Homo sapiens: one gene and its partner. The protein of the gene in region 2 purifies or fractionates together with the protein of the main gene of each other region. This does not show direct contact. Each region holds a gene or a part of one and is shown on either strand. Other genes may lie near its edges.

Evidence for each region. Proteins that work in one complex are often made in the same cells at the same time.
Region 1: the proteins of DACT2 (region 2) and WDR48 purify together in Homo sapiens (affinity purification with mass spectrometry; one large-scale study listed by BioGRID and IntAct). This does not show direct contact.

Annotation. Positions count from the first base shown.
Region 1 is NC_000003.12:39,093,470-39,097,121, forward strand, and holds the end of WDR48 (WD repeat-containing protein 48), read left to right. Parts: intron 1-404; coding exon 405-597; coding exon of another isoform or gene 598-783; exon of another isoform or gene 784-1,178; coding exon 1,179-1,274; 3' UTR 1,275-3,195; downstream 3,196-3,652. UniProt on the Homo sapiens protein: Regulator of deubiquitinating complexes, which acts as a strong activator of USP1, USP12 and USP46. Enhances the USP1-mediated deubiquitination of FANCD2; USP1 being almost inactive by itself.
Region 2 is NC_000006.12:168,309,757-168,313,408, forward strand, and holds part of DACT2 (dapper homolog 2), read right to left. Parts: intron 2,515-3,652; exon of another isoform or gene 2,405-2,514; intron 1,529-2,404; coding exon 1,396-1,528; intron 691-1,395; coding exon 412-690; intron 1-411. UniProt on the Homo sapiens protein: Involved in regulation of intracellular signaling pathways during development. Negatively regulates the Nodal signaling pathway, possibly by promoting the lysosomal degradation of Nodal receptors, such as TGFBR1.

The DNA of each region.
Region 1 (3,652 bases), on a different chromosome or scaffold from region 2:
TACAGGCGTGCACCACCATGCCCAGCTAATTTTTTGTATTTTAGTAGAGACGGGATTTCACCATGTTGGTTAGCCAGGCTGGTCTTGAACTCCTGATCTGAAGTGATCCACCTGCCTTGGCCTCCCAAAGTGCTGAGATTATAGGCGTGAGCCACCACACCTGGCCTGTATATGTCAAGTTTTAAGAACACATATTAATCTCATTTAGTTGTACATAAACTGTGTCTTAGAAGGACACTGTAGAAAATCTTTCCGCAGCTCTAAAAATGGATTAAGGTAATGACTAAAAACATTTATTGGTTTATTTTTCATCTTTAAAATGTTTGCATCAAAGAAAAATAATATGGAATAAATAATATCTAGTGATTTCCCTGATGTCACAATATGCCATTGCTTTTTTACAGAGATAGACTCTCTGCTAGTGACATGCTCCAAGTCCGAAAAGTTATGGAACATGTTTATGAAAAAATTATCAACTTGGATAATGAGTCTCAAACCACTAGCTCTTCTAATAATGAAAAACCAGGAGAACAGGAAAAAGAAGAAGATATTGCTGTGTTGGCAGAGGAGAAAATTGAACTTTTGTGCCAGGACCAGGTAAGTGGACTTGAGGACTACAGCCCCAATTTTTCCAGTGCTGGTGCTCATAAAGAGTTACATGCCTTTGGGTGGGGGGCTTCTACTTTTAGAGGGGCTCTAAGGAGCCCTGGGCCTCTCCTACCTAAAGCCCACCCTAAAGCTCCTCTTTACTGCTGGGGAGATTTTCAGAGAAGGGATACATAGACAAATGTGGATGTGCTGGTAGCTTTTTTTTCTGACAAGAAAAAAGACACATGGTCTTCTTGATTTGCAAAAAGCATGTGCCATGTTTATGATTTAGAGTGAAGGTGTGCGGAGAAATGGCAGAACTGTTTTTTAAATCAAGATGCACTCAAAACGTATCCTCAGAGGAATGGCTGAAAGATGGCCTGGTGTTTCTGGCATAGTCACAAAAGATGTACATCTCACTAAGCTCAATTTCATTCCCGCATGCATGGAAGCCGTGACAGCAAGAATTGGATACCAGGCATAGGGGAGGAGTGAGCAAGCTGGATCACCTGATGAGAGTCCCTGAGTTAATGATAAGGTTTTAGATATTAGAGACTTTGAAATTTTTAAATTTAATTTTGGCTATTCAGGTTTTGGATCCAAATATGGACCTTCGAACAGTGAAACACTTCATATGGAAGAGCGGTGGAGACCTCACCCTCCATTACCGTCAGAAGTCCACGTGAAGGCTGGGCTAATGCTCCTGGATATTCATTTACGACCTTCCTCTATGGCCCCAAGAGTAGTCCTAGGAAGCCCACTGATCCCCAACGGGAGCAAGACTTCTAACGGCTGATTGGTATGGACCGAGATTATCTTTCAATTGAAGTGACTAATCGAGATGTAATATAGAAACCAGTCTCCATGTGTAGATTAAGCTGTCCCCAGGGAAGCAGAGTGCAAGAGCAGAAGAGCCCCAAGCAGACTATGTCTTTCAAGATGTACAGAAGACTGACAACAGGCCAGTGCAGACTTTGCTTCCTCCTTTTGTTTCAAAGGACCTTATCTACCCATTAACACTTGTTAGAGACACCTCAGTCGGGCCACAACTGTCTCTGTTTCAACTTTAAGCCCACACACTCTGTAGCTTTTCTAAAACAGTACATTCCATTCATGCAGTAGATATGAAGGCTTTTTCCAAGTTTGTCATATAAAGTAATCAAATTGTTTTCACCGTTTAAGACAGTTATTTTTAATGGGAATTTGCTGTTGCACAATTTGAGAACCAGCCCATTTCATAATAAAAGATTAATGTTGGGCTTGTTGTTAATATTGCATCTCAGATGTGTTCTTGTAGGAAGATCTGTTGAAATTCCAGGTGCTGGATCATAGCACTTGGACTGTTGGGCCGGAGTTTGTGCAGCCCATGCCTAGCGATGCTGCACCTCCCATGATGTCCTGGCTTTGTGGCAACCCCAGGGAGGTGCAGCAGTTTCACTCCTTCCTCCACTGTGTCCAGTTTTATTTACACAAAGCGAGCTGAGACCACAGGTTCTTGCTCTGGATGAGCAGCATGACACCATCAAAATTTAAGACCATGATGAAATTTCAGTTTCATTCAAATGTTACCTAAAATTTATGGTGTCAGAATAAAGGGAGATCATAGTGAGTTAATTTGATATTCATATCCTGGAAGTATACATATTTGTTTTTCCAAAGTTTTATATGCAGGTTTTTGTTGTACCTGTATCCAGATCTTCTTTTCACTGTTCTAACAATCTAACACTTTCATAGAATCATTTGGATCTTGTATAGAGTGTAACTTATTGGGGATAAACACTTCAACTTTTGGCAGAAAATACTTTGGATTCTCCCCAAGGTCATTTGTATTCAGAGTAAATCAGTGGTCCACCCCCATAAAACTGTAAGACAAGCCTCCTGTATGAAGCCAGAAGCACAAGTGCCTTCAGAGGGCAGTTGATTCCAGTCCAGTTGCCTCCCTAGCTTGTGTGTGGCCTGCCTCCACCATAGCAGGGACTAGGGAGGGAGGCAGGGAACGTTTTTTCTTTTCTACATCTTCACAGGTTCGGCTGGGGGCAGCTGATAGGCCTAAGGCCATACCTTACTATTTAAGATACTCTGATCGCACAACTGCAGAGACAGGGTTCCCTCACTGCTAGTCAGCTTCTTTTGGAAACTGGACAGGCCATTGCCACCTGCACTTTGAAGAAGTGAGCAAAGACGTGGCCACATTTCTAATAAGTTGAAATGGTCTTTCTCCCTTCCTCAGAGAGCAACCAGCTTCTTTTTTTTTAAAAGTCCTTTCTATCTGTTGGATACAACAGTGTGCTTTTGGTGCACATTTTTTAGCAATAGTTGTGAATTAATGGCAAAGAAAAAAAAAATTATTTACCAGCCCTCAGTTGTGTTTGCCCGAGGGGCCTTTGAGCAAAGAAATGGGTTTTGCTGGGTCATTTTGCCCTGTGTGCTAAGCCTTGGGTGGCTGCATTCCCCTCCTGTCATAGATCTGACCCCCAGCATGATTGTATTTCTTTCCCCTCCAGTCAAACCGTAATACAGTTTCCAGAAAATTCGACAGTCTGCAATGCCAAAAGGGTAAAAATCTGTATTTCACAGTTGTATAGAATAAAGGCTTTAGTTAAAATATTTCAAAGTGTAGTACACATTTATTTTCATTTGTTATTTTCTTTCATAGCAGATTACAGAGAAAGAAAGAAACCTCTGGTTTCATGTTCTCCCTGGAAATATTAGCATTGATACCCATTTTATCCTCCAACTTATGGGGGAAGGGAAAGTAAAAGTGAGGGAGGGAAGAGCCAGAACCTTTGGGTGAGGGCAACTTTGGGTCAGACTGCCAGGCTACAGAGTTAAGGGAAGCTGGCCCCAGAACAGTCCTGTGGCGATTCTGTTCTACTTCCTGCATTCCAGCAGACTTGACACTGGGCTCCCAGACGATCCAGGACACAATGCCTCACTGTTATGCACACGTATCAGCTGCTCTGGTAGGCTTGACAAGGGTTTGCTTTAAATGAAGGGTTTGCTAATTTGGGACCCTCCCTCCATATAGTTGGCCTGTGCCCCCCAGAGCAGACATTCCTTGTCC
Region 2 (3,652 bases):
ATCTGTGCCTTTGGAGACAGTCTGAAGACAACTACAGCCCCTCCTGGGCCAGCGGGTGGGATCCAGGTGTGAGCCCGGTTCTCTCCCCACCAGCGCTTTCAACCCCACTCTCACTCCAAACACCAGTGGATCCAGGGTTTTTGAAGGATTTTTTTAAGCTTGCTGATGTCCATTTTAAATACAGGGAAAAGTGCTGTGTGTTATTAGAGCTGGTGGTGATGCGCACAGCCGCATTTGGTTCCTGCCTCCATCCAAACCACCACGTGGCCCACGGAGGCCTTCCAGCGTCCCTTAGAGCCTGACAGCGTGCTCCGTGTAGGGTCCCCGGCTCTGCCCTCAGCAGCTGGGGACTGCACTCTGCCATCCCCTGTGCCTGAGATGAGACCCCCACCTTCCCTGGCAGTTTCTTACCTGTAGACACAGGCCTGGGCCAGAATGTGCCCCACGGCTGGCCTGCATCCTCCACGCTCCCTGGGGGCCTGGCGCCCTCCTCGGTAGCCTGGGGTCTCCACGCTGGCACAGTAGTCTCATCAACCGACCGGGGCCTCCAGTCCCCCATGCTGGGCCTGGCCTTGTGGGCCTGGGCCACAGGCAACAAACTGCCCAGCGAGGGAGAGATGTGGTCACTGCAGACGGAGGCACAGGACGTGGACAGGGAGCAGGATCCACCGTCGCTCATCTCGTAAAAGCCTGGACGGAGCAGACAAGGCAGGTCAGTGACCCCCATCCAGAAAAGCCCAGGGCCCCCTCTCCTCCTGAGCTTGTCACGGCACAGGTGGGCCCAGGGGAACCCCTGAGCTGAGGCTACCGGAGGCTGTGTGCCATCGTCCACACGGCCGGCCTGGGAGAGAGTGGCTCAGGTGAGAATGTTCAGGATTCTTCCCAGGAGCTGCCAGTGGGTTGGTCAGAGCCCACTCCACCTGCACTCTGCAGCCCTGGCCCTCCCTCTTCCTGGCAAGTGGTGCCTTTAGTCCTGGGTGGTCGATGCCTGCCTAAGAGGTGGCCTCTTCCTCTGGATTTCAGCCCTTTTAGGACAGGCCTCTGGCCCCTGTCTCTCTCTTTCTTCCCTGGTGCCTGCCAAGTTGAGGAGACCAGTCTGGGGAGGTGCTTCAGCCACAGGCCTCCTGAGTGCAATAACGTCACTTAGACCACAATGTGATTTTTGCAAATTAAAAAAATAAGAGCGAGGTAGCCAATTAATATATATGCCCTGAGAAAGGCTTCAGTGTTGCCTCCTAACTTTCAGATCAGCCTGACGAAGCGGCCATCTCCCTGCACGGACACTAGGATACCTGGAATGGAATTTCAGCCCAAGAGGGGCTGGCGGGATAGGCTTCACCTCTGCCTGTGCTGCGTGCCTGCCCCTGTGTCCGGGAGGTCAGGGCGCCCTGGTACCTGAGCTGGGCCTGCTGTCGCTGTCCAGGGCCTCCCCTGAGGCTGTGCCCACATCCAGCTGCAGCTTGCTAATCTGCAGGTCCAGCTGGTCCAGGTGGGTCTTCAGGCCGATGTCCTGTTGTCTCAGCCGGGACTGAGAAGGGAAAGAAGAGAAAGGGAACTGTTGTACCTATGGAAAGCAAAACTTAAGGCTCAAAGGGGTGAAAACATGCATTGTGAATGCAATTTAAACTCCCAAAGTCCACGCGAAATACATCTTCTAAATCCGGCAGCTGCCCCTGCTCACTCTGAAGCAATTTCCTTGTTCCACTGTCACAAAAAGAAAGCTCTACTGACACCCATCGCCCCCCACACACATACACACACACAAACACACACACACACCCATCCACACACACATACACACACTCACACACAAACACACACACCCATCCACACACACACATACACACACACTCACACAAACACACACACACCCATCCACACACACACACTCACACACACACCCATACACACATATACACACACACTCACACACACACATACACACATGGGTTTTCTCCAGATCAGACTGCTTTACTTATCCTCACTTTTCAAATTACATTTCTTTATAAGGATACAGAATTCCACAGCTTATGAGAGTGAAATCAGGATCAAAAACAACACCTCCTTTTGGCAGACAGGAACTATCTGCACTGTCTGTTTTGCTGCGTTTTTCAGCCTGCGTAAGGGTTTACTCTCCTGTACTAACGCTTTACGCATCTCATGCCCAGGTGCGGTGGCGTCCTTTCACTCGGCCGCCTCTGGGTCCTTGGTGCCTGGGGAGCACAAACCTTTTGACTTTTCAAGAAGGTAAGAAAGTCCCTTGGAAAGAAAGAAAAGCTCCCCCTTCACTATAAGTCCCTTCTCCTTCCCTGATAGAAGAAGTAGCATTTTGAACTGTTACAGGCTTCGGCAGAGCTACCAGGGGAGAAGGTTCTCAGCAAAACATGGAAAATGTCAGCTTTACCTGGAATAAATGCAGCTTGAAAATCGGCCTTCAGGATCTTTTGTTTTGTTTTAGAGACAGGGTCTTGCTCTGTTGCCCAGGCTGGAGTGCAGTGGTGCGATCACGGCTCACTGCAGCATCGACCTCCCCGGGCTCAGGTGATCCTCCCACCTCAGCCGCCCAAGTATCCGGGACTGCAGGCATGCACCATCACGCCCTGCTAATTTTTGTATTTTTTGTAGAGACAGGGTCTTGCCATGTTGCCCAGGCTGGTCTCCAACTCCTGGACTTAAGTGATCTGCCTTCTTTGGCCTCCCAATGTGCTGGGATTACAGGCATGTGCCTGGCCAAGGGACTGTGTATTTAGAAGTTTCCATCACAGCCCTGCCCTGAGAGGCTGCGCCTTCTCCTGGCCTCAGCTTCCCCCACTCTAAAGGGTTTATAATGAGCATGTGTGTGTGTGTACATGTGTGCGTGTGTGTGCGTCTTTCAATTCTAAAACATTTCTTGTTTTGATGAACAACTACGATTAAGGCAAATAATTAATGAATGTAATTATGTGGTTGTTTCTCTTAAGAAAATGATTAATTATATTTCAAAATTTACGTGGGAAATGAGGAGTTCCCCTGAGCCCCATAACCTAGGCCTCAGGGAATTACTTCAGTAATTTCCACAATATGAGAAATCATTACAAGAGAGAGGCAGGTAGCAATGGTTTCCTGTTCTGATGAGAGAATGACTTCTCAGATTTTCCAAACGCAAGTGCCTACTATCAGCACGGGTGAGGGGATGGAGGCCAGGCTCGACCCAGCACACAGCTTCTGTGCCAGGAGCAGACCTCCTCCTCCAGGACCCAACTCAGGGGCCTCCCAACAACCTCCAAAGTTTGCACAGTGACAGAATCTGAAGCCATAATATTTTTTTTTAGACGGAGTCTCGCTCTGTCCTCCAGGCTGGAGTGCAGTGGCGCGAGTTCAGCTCACTGCAAGCTCCACCTCCCGGGTTCAAGCCATTCTCTTGCCTCAGCCTCCCGAGTAGCTGGTACAGGTGCCTGCCACCATGCCCAGCTAAGTTTTTGTATTTTTAGTAGAGACGGGGTTTCACCATGTTAGCCACGATGGTCTCGATCTCCTGACCTCGTGATCCGCCCGCCTCAGCCTCCCAAAGTGCTCGGATTACAGGCATGAGCCACCGCGCCCGGCCTCTGAAGCCATAATATTATCTGTGAATGTGAACATGGCAAAAACCAATCCTGAATTTAATCAAAAT